Regions from separate parts of the Homo sapiens genome. Here all the other regions are linked to region 2. Evidence: fine-mapped expression QTL. A gene starts in region 2. Each other region holds a variant in brackets. All regions are shown on one strand. Distances are from middle to middle.

Region 1 (4,131 bases), 21 kb before region 2:
TGTTCCCTGCAGCTGGGGTGGGGTCCACCTTGCCTGGGGCCATCCTCATTCTGCTTGTCTGACGTTCTTTAGTATCTGTTAAGGCTTGTAGGGCCCCTTTCACGCCCAAATGTCCTGGTCATCCCAGTTCTAGAAAAGAAGACATTCGAACTAGTCTGAAAGATCAGACAGAGTTTTTTGTTTGTTTCTATTTTTTGCACCTGGTAATGAAAGTAATAAATTCTCACCGCATAAAATTTGGAAAGTAAGGAAAAAATAATGTAAAGCAGAAGAGAAAGCCACGCCAGCTTGCTAATATCTTGGAATGTTTATTTTCTGTCATTTTTCCTAGGCTTGTAATTATTGCACCTGGCCAGGGTCATCCTGAACACAGTCGTCACGCCTAACCATCTCTAGGCAAGGAGATGGGAAGGGCTTCGGTGGGCAAAGCTAAGGAGAAGGAAAGGGCTCGGTTGGAGGGAAGACTGGGCTCCGCTCCTGCCACTAGCTGCTGTGTGCTCTCTTGCCAGCTGCTCACCCTCTCTGAACCTTGTTCTTTGGCCTGCAGAACTGGCATGGGGCTGCCACAAGGACGATGAGCTACAAGCGACAGCAATGGGCTTCTGCACAGACGGCCCTGCAGAAACCTCTGAGATAGCACCCCCTGCGGTCCCCTGCCCACCACCACCCCACTTTGCTTTTCTTCCAATTGATCTCCACCTGACACAGTGCACGCCAATGCTGGTCTCCCTCTCCTTGACCCAGGGGGAGGTGGGGAAGCTCCTGAGAGGGAACCCGCTGTTGTGTTCAAGGCTGTGTTTCTGGGGCACATGAGGCCCGGGCTGGGTGAAGCTGTGAAGCTGTGCTGAATGGATGCAAGGCTTTCCAGGAAAGATGGCAAGGGCACGAGGACGGCTCAGGAGGAGCAGGAGGGTGCCAGCAGAGGAGCCCAAGGACAGGAGATCACAGAAGGCCCTGGCAGCCTGAGACGGGGGTGCTGTCCTCTTTGTAAGCTGCGCAGCTGCCTCGACCCCTGAGCAGGCACACAGCAGGTGCGGGTAGGGGTCCTTCCTCCTGGCACAGACAGCCCCACAGCCTATGGGGCAGCAGAGCCTCCACCCCGGACACTCCTGCTCCTGGATGCAGAGCGAGAGGTGGCTGCAGCCTTGCGGGATGTCGCGCGGAGGCTGACGGGAGCACGGTTCACTGAGAGAGAGAAGCCAGCAGGCCTCAGCCATGGAAGCCGGTGCCTGATTGGTGCCCAGCTGTGATTAGAGAGTCCTATTTCAATGTGGGCCCCTTAGGCTCATGTCCAGAGGCCTCTGACTCATGGAGAACTGTGCTCGGCACACCGTTTCTGGACCCTCTTGAAGGATTATCTGCTAGTCCTGGGGCCTGGGTACCATGTTCTGCATGGACAGCCAGGACTGGGATGGAGCCTGGACCAGCCCCCGGAGCAGCTGAGCATCTACCCATCGGTTCAAATAGAAGGACCCTGGATGTCTGCCTTGGATGGCCGGCCCAGCCCCCTGTGGGCTGATGGGAGCTCCTCTTTCCAGGGTTCTGGGCCTGTCTCCAGAGCTGGAAGCGCTGAGGACTCCCAGCCCTGGCCATGATGGATGACGAAGCCCACACCTGCCCACCCTGTCCATCCTCCTGTGGTGGATGCCCTTGTCTTCTCTCCGTGATACCGTGGGCTTCCCCTGGCAGAGCCCTCATCACAAAACTCTGATGTTTACTCATCTCCGCAGCAGGCCCCGGGGAGCATCTCGCAGGCGGCCACCCCGCCAGAGCCACCGTCCTCTCTCAGTGCTGGGTCACTGCATGCATTCAGGGCTGAGTCTCCACTCCCCACATCTGCCTTTAGAGTCAGAAAATCACCCACTGGCATTAACCAAGGCCCCCGAGTCAGTTCTAGGGCTGGAAGGACCTCCTGAGACCCACCTGTGCTCATTCACTTATCCGCTCATCACTCACTCATCCGCTCATCACTCACTCATCCACTCATCATTCATTCAGCAGTGGTTGTGGGTCAGTGACACACCCAGCCCCGAGCCAGATGCTGCAGGTACATAGCTCAGGAAAGTGATGCAATCCCTGAATGCCTGGCCTTGGTGTGCCGAGAGACAAGTGAAATTTTCCCAGGGCCACGGTGGGATTCAGAAGGTGCAGCGTGCCCTGCCAGGGGGAGATGGCAGAGGCATGACTGTCCGGGGCAGACAAGACAGAAGGATGAGTGGCAGTTAGTAGGAAAATACACGTGTCCAGGGCAGAGACTCTGGCCCTAGGAGGCCTGGGGGTGGCAGGGTGAGTGCCCAGGAGGGGGACGTGCCTGGCACTCACACAATGAGTCGGGCAGGGAACGCGGCTGGACCCAGAGGGCCTGGAGGCTGTGAGGAGGGTGATCTGCCCCTCTCTGTAACAGGACAGCCCAGGAGGGTCTGTGCTCAGGGGTGCCACATGCCCCTTATGCTCCATCTCACGGCTGGTGCCAGCAGACCTGGACTCTTCCAGCTTCCCCAAGCGGTGCGGGACTGCC[C/T]GGGATAGAGAAGCATGCAGCGACCTTCCAGGCTGCAGCAGCAGAGGGGTGGGGGTGGCTGGGCCTGCGTGGTGGCCGCAGGGGAGAGGGACGTGGATGGAGGTGAAATGGACAGGTGTGTGGATTGCAAGGCAGCCTGGATGTGGGTGTGGGGGGCGTCATGGTCTTCCCTGCCACTGCAGACGAGGCAGCAGGCTCCTGGGGAAGCTGGAAGAGGCAGAACTGGGCTGCTCTGTTCTGAGGGCTTCTGCCCAGAGTTCCAAGTTCCAGGAGCTTCTAGGGGCTGGGGCCTGCCTGCATAGTGAGGGGATGAGTCCAGGTCTGCGGCACATGGCCTCTGCCGTCGGCCTTGCTCTCAGTGCAGAGCCGGCCTCGTCCTCATTGTGTGGCTCAGGAGATGGAGGCCCAGAGAGGCGAGGCTGGCACCTGCACAGGCCAGCTGCATAACCCAGGTCCAATTCCAGGTCCCAGAGCCAGGCTGCATGTTGACCCACTGCCAGGGATGACGGGCAGACTGCTACTCCCAACAGTGCCTCAGCTTTGTCACCTGGAGGGCAGGAGGGCAACAGGACCTGCTTGGAAGCTGAGAGTCCACATGCCCAGCAGGCATCCCGCCCTCCTCCGCCTCTTGACAAAGCAGGCCGGTCATGCTTCTGACACCAGGGCCGTGAGGAACGGCGTCCCCCTCCCTGGGTCCGTAGGCCTTTGACAGGTGGGGATGCCTGTCCCTGCTGGGCCCCAGGTTTGTATTTGCAGCCACAGAGCAGAGCAGGGAAGAGCCAAACTGACCCACCAGGAACCTCAGCTCTTCCCTGTCTGGGTCCTGCCCTGACCACATCCGTCACTGTCAACACCGGGAGGAGAGTGTGCGGCAGCCCACGCTCCCTGATGGCAGCCTTCCCCAGAGAGCCAGGCCCACCCCACCGACCCCAGCCTGGGGTCTCTCAAAGGCTCTGGGCACTGCCTTGGCTGAAGCCAGTCCTGAGCTCCAACTTAGGGACAGAACCGGCCCACCTTGGTGGATGGGGCTTGGCAACCTCCCAGATTCCCGAACACCCCCATAGGCCCCTTTCAGCCTCAGGTTTGGAGAGGCAGAGGGGGAAAGGTCCCAGCTAGCCAGCCAGGGGCAGGGAGAAGGTGTGCTGGTCTGGTCAGTTACCTCCCTGACTTCCTCATCCATGTGGCAGCTGAAGCCTGTGACAGGAAGAGGCAAAACAAAAACCAAACCTGTCCCTAAAGGTTAAGCTTATTGGTCCTTACGTGGGGGTGTAAAGTGTTTTATTCAGGTAAGCTGACGCATCCTGTTAGCTGAGCTAAACCAGACAGAGCTGACTGGAGGAGGCAGGGCTGATTTGAAAGATGAACCTCCAGCCGAGAGCGCCTGTGAGGATGCTTGGGGGCATCAGGATCTTCCTCCTGCAAAGCTGCAGGTCCTCATGTGCCTGATGCTCTCCCACTAATGGTTAGCTCTGTGACCTCCTCCAGGTTGCCTCAGTTACCTCAAATGTAAAATGCAGAATGAAGTCCCCCCTCCCCACCGCAGATGGGACACAGGTGAAGAAAGGTGGTCCGGTGACCTGCCCCATCCCAGGTGGCTCTTACTGAAGGTCGGC
Region 2 (4,131 bases):
ATTTTAATCTTCTTTTAGGTCTTTCTGTTCCTATTTGATAGTTTTGTACACAGAAGACCAGCATGGATGTTGTTAGACTTATTCACAGTTATTTGAATTTGGTGTTGCTGATGCAAATTTTTTAAATTTCATTTTTAAATTCTTTGAGGCTAGTTTTTAGAAGCACAATTGATTTTTGCTAAACTTTTTATTCTGCTAGTTTATCTGTAGAAACTCTAGAATTTTCTACATCCTCAATCATGTCTTCTGAAAATAACAACTTTGTGTCTGCCTTTCCAATCTTTTTATGGTTTTGTTCTCTTGCCTACTGCACTGGACAGTGACATGCAATACAATGTTGACCACAGTGGTGATGACAAGCATCCTTATTTGTTCTCAGTCTCTGAGGATGGTTTTCCATTTTTCCTGTTAATTATGTTGTAACTTCTGTATCCACAGCTTCCAAAGACCTCTTTCTATATTCTGTTGTTTCTGTTGGTCCTTATACACATTGTCTTTTATTCCCATGAGCCTGGTTATCGTTGATTGTGTTTTAACATTTCATTTGAAAAAAATAAAACACTTTGCAGAAATAATGACCTGGGATGATGTCATTCTCCTTCAGAGAAGATTTTTGTTTCTTTCAGCAAGGAGCCTGGGGGCATGAGCAATAATTCCAGGAGTTGAGATTCCTTTCCTGGGACACTTAGATGTCTCAAAACCAGTTTGCAGCCCTTGTGAATGTTGGTTGTTGCTCACTCATCCTATTGCTAGGGTGCAGCCCTTCTGAAAGCCAACCCCAAACCCATACCTTTGGCAGGCCGTAGGCCCCAGTCTTTGACCTTCAGCTCTGCAAGATGGTGAAATCACTGCCCAACTTCTCACCTCTCTTTTGGAGATTGGCAAATCCCTGTGCAAAAAGAGGTCCCCACTACTAGTTTCACTTCTCTAAGATTTCTGTGGCTCCTGAGAGCTTGGCAAAGTAATCCTTTACTACATAGCTAGCTTGACGGTGCCTTCGAGCAAATCTCTTTTTAAAGGTTTTGTCTGTTTGTCCTTAATAGGATGCCCCCAAATACCTAAACTGCCATTGCCAGGAATCAAATGACTTTTGTTGATCCAATGTTAAGATATTTTAACTTGCCAGAATCTTGCATTCTTTCATACTCTTGGGAACATTGACTTGATATCTGAAGGTGGTGTTGACTTCTCACCTGAAATAAACCTATTGATGTTGCAAGGAAGAGGAGGTCCCCTCACACCCAGGGGGCAGCTGGCAAATGGAATTGAGGGGCACAGACCTGCTGGCTTTCTCCCTGTTCTGACCCAATCCCAGGTGAGTGCTGCTCCTGAATTGGATCCTCTCCAAGAAAGGAGGCCGCACCACTGACACCCAGACCTCTCCCGCCTGGGCCAGTAGCTCAGGGACACTAAGCGGTGTCTGAGGCAATGAAGCCTCCTGCCGTTGTCTCTCAACAGGCTGGAGCCAACACACACAAACACACACAGTCGAGAGTCGTTGTGGTGCCCAGAGAGCCTGGACACAAGGTCCTGTGTCTCCTGGATCCCCCACCCCTGGGCCGCCCCTCCACTTCTCTCCCACCTGGGGAGCCCTTGAGTTTGGAAACCCAGTCTACACACGCTGGCTCAGAGAAGTTGCAAACCACAAAACAACACCTCTCCCTGCTCCTTAGTCCTGCTACCATCTGACTCTCGTTAGTGACTATTTCTATACGTTCTAAAAATCCCGCACAAAGTGTCCACAGCGTGGCCTGGCTAAGCATGATTCACAGCACGAGATGCGGAGTAGGAACATGGCCTCAGGGATTTGGGGGAACAAGAGGCATCCCCACCTTCAGGTGAAATGAGCAATCCCAGTGATCTACAAGGCGTTAGACAGAATTGAGTCCAATGCCTGGCTCTTACTAGTGGAGTGACTTCAATTTCTCCAGCTGTAACTTTCAAATAATTTACTCCACCGAATGGGGCTGGTGCAAGATGATATGATGGAAATAGTATTTGGGACATAACAAGTGCTCAACATTTTTTTCCTCTCCATCCATGATAAGTGCCTGATGACGGACAAACCCTGAATTTTCTGGGAACAGATGAGGCAAGGAAGCGTCTTCAGCAAAACCTTCCTTATCCCCCAAGGTTAAGGTCAAGGTTTCCGAGTATTGCTTGGGGACAGCTGGGGAATGGAAAGGGGGTGTGGGGGCTGTGTTCTCCTTAAGCCACAAGCAAAGCCGATGCTTTCCAGCAGAGGAGTCTCAGGAGCTCTCTGGACTGGGAGCAGGGTGTCTTTGCTGGGGGAAGAGAGCCCAATGGGGTGGGCATCTTGCTGGAGCCTAGTGGAAGGAAACATCCTTTGAGATGACCTCATACCTCCTGTTGGTGCAACTAAGCAGCCCATAGGAAGTGGGTGTCCCCCAGGGAGTTGAGAAACTGTGGCACAAGGCGAGAGCTGGTTTCCTCTGCCCTGTTAGAGCTGGGGGACTCTTCAGAGTCAAAGGCCAGAGAGCATGGAGCTGAGTGGAGCCACCATGGCCCGGGGGCTCGCTGTCCTGCTAGTCTTGTTCCTGCATATCAAGAACCTGCCTGCCCAGGCTGCGGACACATGTCCAGGTGAGACAGACCTGGGTTTTCTGGTCCCTAAAAGCTGGTAACAACCCCACTCACTGACACTCGGGTGTCCCAGGCAAAACCTTTTATGCACATCTTCCTGTGAAGATGCCCAACAGATCTGTTTTATCCTCAGGCAAGGACATGGAGGCTCAGGGCAGCTGAGGCATTGCCCAGGGTCATGGAGGGATAGGGGAGGGATGTCACCAGGTCTGTCTGCCTCGAAAGCCCAGGATTTGCCCATTGGAGCTTCATAGGTGGGTCTGGAATCTGTCACTGAGAAGGAAGAAAATACTGTTGACTTTATCTTCTTACGGGCTTACCAGGGAGGCACTCTAAGACCCTCTAATACGGTGGCTGCCACACGGACTTGGGGGGTTTGTTAAAAAGGCAGATTTCTGGCTCTCCTCCAAGAGAGTCGGAATCAGTTGATAGGGACAAGGGTTTGAACGGTGGTAAGGTGTTTCCCTCACTGATTCAGGAGCAGGTGGTTCTGTGACGCTCAGCAAGAGACTGCTCCTAAGGACGGCCTGGTGCCCCTGGCTGATAACATATTTATGAAGGAAACATAAATAGTAAATTACAGCCTGCTCTAGTGGAAGGAGGACTGGAAACACAGAAAGGAAATACCCCAAAAATGGCAGTGCCATGTCTCCGGTGAGAGCACTGCTCCGTTCCATGGTCTCTAAGAGCGCCCTTAGCAGGGCGTGTAGATTTTGTAATGAACAAAATGAAAAATATTTTTTCAAAGAAGTAAACAACTTTGGTTTGGCTGCAGCTGTGCCACACCTGGCTCTGTGTCCTTGGACCCCACACTGCCCCTCTCCAGAGGACCTAGAAAGCCCCTTCCAGCCCAGTAATTCTACAACCACATTCCCAAGGTCTGGGAGGGAAAATGCTTTGTCAGCCCCAATTCCCCAAGTTTCTTAGAAATATTGATTGTCATTAGTTATTGAAAGTGCCCGCTGTTTATTAAGCTCTTTCTAAATGCCATAAATTACAATAAGAGATTTAAAATGCACATTCTTTAACCAAATCCTGGCCGCAACCTTGTTATTATCCCCGCTTGGCAGCCCAGGGCACAAAGCTCAGAGGAGTTAAGTTACTTGCTGCAGGACACACAGCACTGAGGAGATGGGGCTCCCCTAGGTCGGGGTGGCCTCCAAAGCCAGAGCTCTGCCCCCCATCACATCTCCGCCTCACCAGTGCCTGAGGGGTGAGGACAGACCAAGGCCCCAGCAGAGCAGAAAACCTCACTTCCCAGCCACTGTTGGGCCAGGCACTGAGTGGGCACCTGTGTTTCTCTGCAGAGGTGAAGGTGGTGGGCCTGGAGGGCTCTGACAAGCTCACCATTCTCCGAGGCTGCCCGGGGCTGCCCGGGGCCCCAGGGCCAAAGGGAGAGGCAGGTGTCATTGGAGAGAGAGGTAGGTGCGGGCCGGGTGGGGAGGCCAGGCATGGCAGGGGCACTGGCTCTTGCTCTTTATGAAACTGGATGCAGAGTTGGGCAACACCCCCACCGTGGTTCCTAGA
Region 3 (4,131 bases), 870 kb before region 2:
GACCCCAGGGAGCCTCCACCCTGGCTGCTGCCATTCCCTCCTCTCTGCCCGTCCTCTCCCCTTGGGGTAGCCCTGCCCTGGTCCCTGAGAAGGGAAAAGTCGGGGAGGCTGCTGGCCAGCCAGGTGGGGGCCATGCTGGTCCCTCTGCAGTGGGGGCTTTGGAGTTCCCACAGTGTGAGCACAGCTGCTGCCAGGGTGGCGGGGGCACAGGCTAGGACTTGGGGGCGACCAGGGCAGCTCCGGCCAGGAGACCAGCTCTGCTTCAGGCCTTTCGCACACGGCGGCAGGTCATTTGGTGCCAGCTCCTGTGTCCACACCTGCGGGATGGGACGGCCTGACACCTGCCCCTCACAGCTGTTTTGCTCTTTTCCCAAAACCCATGGTGGGGTCTTCCCCAGGCCTTTGGAGGAGGCCCAGGGGCCTCATGCTGAGGCTGTGCAGGGAGACACACCCTCCCCACCCTCGTGCCCACACACGCTTCTGGGGTGGCCGCATGGCAGGTGGCACAGGGAGTGGGTGGTGAGGGCAGCTCTAGTAGGTTCTTGGGACCCTGCCCCCCTGCCTGACTGGCTTTGTGACGAGCACCCAGTGGGACACCGAGAACAAGGGGCCACCAGCTCATTTCACTCCGGCAGGCACAGACTGGCCCCCAGGCCCCAGCTTCTCCCGCTGGGGTGCCCGGACCACACGCTTCTGAAGTAAGCAGAGCTCACTGGGCTGAGCCAGGCTGGGCTTTGTGTTTCTTGGGGCTGGGCTAGGGGGCGGGTGGGGATGCCAGGCCCCAGCTGCAGTGCCAGGGCCTGGGTTGTGGTCAGTCACATGGCACTGGTCCTGGCTGCCCAGGATGGTCGCAGAGGACTAGCTTCGCGTGTCCACGGTGCTTGGTGAAGGCTGGCAGCAGGTGTGCCTGAGGGCCTGGGGTGGGGCAGGGGCTGGCTTTGGCTCTTCTGGTGCATGTCCTGGGGCAGGGCCACCTCGCCCCTGGTCCCCAGGGCTACCTGACTCCTCCACCCAGACCCTCCGACCTTTACTCCAGGCCTCAGTGGTAGCTCTGCTCGCCCCCCAACCCGCTTCCTAACCCTGCAGGCCCCAGAGGCTTCCAGACCTCCTGGCTCTTGGCATCCACGGTCACTCCCGCCTGAATCCCCCACGCCAGGCCAGAGCTACCGCCACCCGAGCCTCAGTTTCCTTCTCTATAAACTGGGGATAACTAGTGCCTCCCCCCACGGCAGCTGTGAGGAAGGCGTGAAGAGGGGATTTGTGTGAGTATCGGGGCTGGGGTGCCTCCTCCCGCTGTGTGTGTGGGATGGGGGCTGCACGCTGGAGGGGCCCCAGGATGCTGCCCGCCCTCCCCGCAAAGGGTGTGACTCTTCCTGTTCTGCCTCTTGGCCTAGGCTCCGCTTGAATCTAAACATGGGGGTGCAGCTCCCCAGCCCCAGAACCCCGGCACCGTCACCCTCCCGGGCATGTAGGCCGAGCCCAGGAAATGCCTGCCGCGGGAGTCCTGTGAGCCCTCGCCCCCCAAGCCCGCTGTGGCCATGCCTGCCCTGGAGCTGCAGTGGGAGCCGCAGGAAGCTTTGGCGGGTGAGGGGAGCGGGCGACGCAGGCATCCCACTCATGAAGGCCGCTAGCTGCAGGTCCGAGCACCACAGTGCCCGGCAGAGCGAGGGTCTTCCATGAGCGCCATCGTGGGGAAAAGCACAGAGCCGGGAGAGGCCGACGCTTTACTTCTGTGGCTGCCCCAGGCCTGGCCCTGCCTCCGGGTGCAAGGGCATTGTGGCAAACAGGTCCCTCCCGAGCTAACACCCGTCCTGGCTCAGGAGGCCCTTCAAGCTCCTGGGTTACCCTGTAGGGAGGTGTGGCAGCGGGGGCAGGCTCTGAGCTCCCCTGAGGCTGCCAGGACCCCTGGGAGCACCCTGGC[C/A]CGGACTCTGCTGAGCACTGACGGGGCACAGCATGTTCTTGGAGGAAACGGGGTGTGGAGCGGCTCTGCTCGAGCCGAGCAGGAAGAATCCCCTCGTGGAGCCCCAGCTGGGGGACGAAGGTCACCATCCACCTGGCCTGGGCAGCCATAAAGCCTGCCTACTCCTCGTGGCTTGGAGTCCCCACCCCTGCATCCAGCCCAGGCTTCACCGAGCTCCTCCCGGGGCCCTGGCTCGGGACCCTCTGGGTGCTTCCTGAGAGCAGAGGAGCTTAGGGTCCTCAGACTGCTTGTGGGGCCGGCCACAGGGAAGGGCTGGCTGTAGGCCAGGGTGGCCCACCGGTCACATCAGAGCTCATCGTAAACAGCAAAGCAGGAGAAGCAGCACCAGGGTGAGCCCGAGAGCTGGGCAGTCGCCACTCTGCCTGGCGGCCAACAGCACCTTGACTAGCACAAGCCCCAGACCTCAGCCTCAGGCCCGTCCTCAACGCCCAGCCAGGGGACACTCTGTCGGCATGCGAGGCCTTGCCCAACAGGGCCGCCTGGGCTGACACCTGGGACGTGCTCTCACAGCTCCTGTCCACCTGCCTGGCCGGGATGGCGCAGCAAGGCTGCCGGCGGTGAAGGGTTGGCGAGCCCCGTTGTGCGGTGGTCGGCACCCGCCAGGGCAGAATTACCTTGCAAATATCCCAGGTTTACCCGATTCATGACATCACTGGCTGTTAAATTTGCTACGTCCTCTACAGAACACACAGAAAGAGGCACAGACAGAAAGAGAGAGAGAGAGAATATCAGCAAGCGAGGTGCGGGCGGCCGGCACAGTGGGCGGGTGCAGGGGCAGCTGCACGGGAGGCCGGCCACCAGAAGCGAGTCGGTCACCAGAAAGGCAGTTGCTCCTTCCTTGCCAAGCTCTGGGGGCAGGCAGCGGTCGCAGAGGCAGGCACCAGCTCTGGGGGTGGCCAGACCGGGCGGGATCATCCTCTGCCAGCAGTCACAGGGGACCACAAACATGAATGCTGGGCACCCCCCTCAGCCTCGTGAGCCCCACCTGAAAGGGCGTGAAGTCCCTCCCGGGACAGGGACACTGTGGGGATGGAGGGAAGCTTCAAGGCGGGGACAGGGGGACACCTTCCCCAGCGCCCACAGGGCTGGGGGCCGGGAAAGGTCTTCACAGGCCACCTGTTCCCCAAACCCTGGCCTCTGAGTCTCCTTCGGGCCCGCAGGCCAGCCCAGCCCAGTCACCCGTGAGCAGCTCCTGGGCCAGCCGTGAGCTCCTGACTCTGCTCAGGGGACTCAAGACCCCGACCCAGGTGACAGACGCAGGAAGCAGGGTTGGGAGACGGGGCACTCCGACGGGACAGAGGCAGCCCTGAGCATCAGGCAAGTCCCTGAGATGGAACAAAGGGAAGGTGGAGCCTCGACCCGGCTCAGGGGTGGGTGTCACTGGGTAGCGGCCCGGTGCTGGGGAGCTGGGGCCCATGGCTTCATCAACGGAGGTAGCATCTCTAGAGTGAGGGAGGGGATGAGCTTCTCTCCACGCCAGGCAGGGCATGTAGGGCCCCGAAGCCCAAGCACACTTCCCACCACAAGGCGCAGAGAGAGGGGGCTGCACGGATCTGTTGCTGAAGACGGACGCCGGGCTCCCTGAAGCGGCAGGAGGGGGCTGTGCCGTGGGAGTGGCAACAGGCCCATGGTGGACAGAGGCATGTCCTGGCATGGGCCTTTCCCCCAACTGTTCCCCCAAAGTCTCCCCCCTACCCTGGCTGCTGGGAGGGCTGGGGGCTCTGGGAGGGGGTCCCCACCAGTCTTGTTCTCTGCGAGAACTCAGGGACCCTGGGTATCCGCTGTCCAGCAGGCCTGGCTGCAGCTGGCTGGCCCAACTCTAGCTGATGCCCTCGACTTGGGGAGCCCAGCCTGGCCCTCTCCACCCCACAGCTGCCTCCCCTGGCCAAAGGGCTCAGCCAGCTCCTGTCTCTAATTTGGCAGAGAGGGAAACTGAGGCCCCAGAGCAGTGGAAGCGAGCACCTCCCTACGGGGCTCACACCAGGGATGCCCAAGGGTCCTGTGGCCTCCCAGCACCAGGGTGGGCCATGGCCACTTCCCTCCTCTGCACGGGGCCTCTGCTGGGCCGTGGTGGTGCCCACAGCTGGCCCCACAGTAGAGGCAGGCAGAGGGTGGCCAGAAAGGCTGACAGACAGACAGATGACAGACAG

The links. PIP is the estimated chance that this variant, and not a neighbour inherited with it, causes the effect.
Region 1: its variant is fine-mapped to the expression of FCN1 in whole blood (TOPMed, PIP above 0.99).
Region 3: its variant is fine-mapped to the expression of FCN1 in whole blood (GTEx, PIP 0.97).

What each region holds. Positions count from the first base shown.
Region 1 is chr9:134,937,466-134,941,596 of GRCh38, reverse strand. It overlaps LOC105376314 (a long non-coding RNA gene), which reads right to left. Exons shown (of 4, transcript NR_188683.1): 3 at 1-129. LOC124902302 (a long non-coding RNA gene) reads left to right here. Exons shown (of 2, transcript XR_007061846.1): 2 at 332-4,131. Among named protein-coding and RNA genes, the nearest start is that of FCN1, 22 kb to the right of the region's middle. The variant C/T (reference allele first, on the strand shown) is at 2,519.
Region 2 is chr9:134,916,242-134,920,372 of GRCh38, reverse strand. It overlaps FCN1 (ficolin 1), which reads left to right and starts at 2,461. Exons shown (of 9, transcript NM_002003.5): 1 at 2,461-2,604; 2 at 3,912-4,025. The coding sequence starts at 2,502.
Region 3 is chr9:135,786,627-135,790,757 of GRCh38, reverse strand. The region is part of intron 29 of KCNT1 (potassium sodium-activated channel subfamily T member 1); the gene reads right to left. It overlaps LOC107987140 (a long non-coding RNA gene), which reads left to right. Exons shown (of 3, transcript XR_007061851.1): 1 at 1-698; 2 at 1,087-1,262; 3 at 1,395-2,829. Among named protein-coding and RNA genes, the nearest start is that of KCNT1, 87 kb to the right of the region's middle. The variant C/A (reference allele first, on the strand shown) is at 1,922.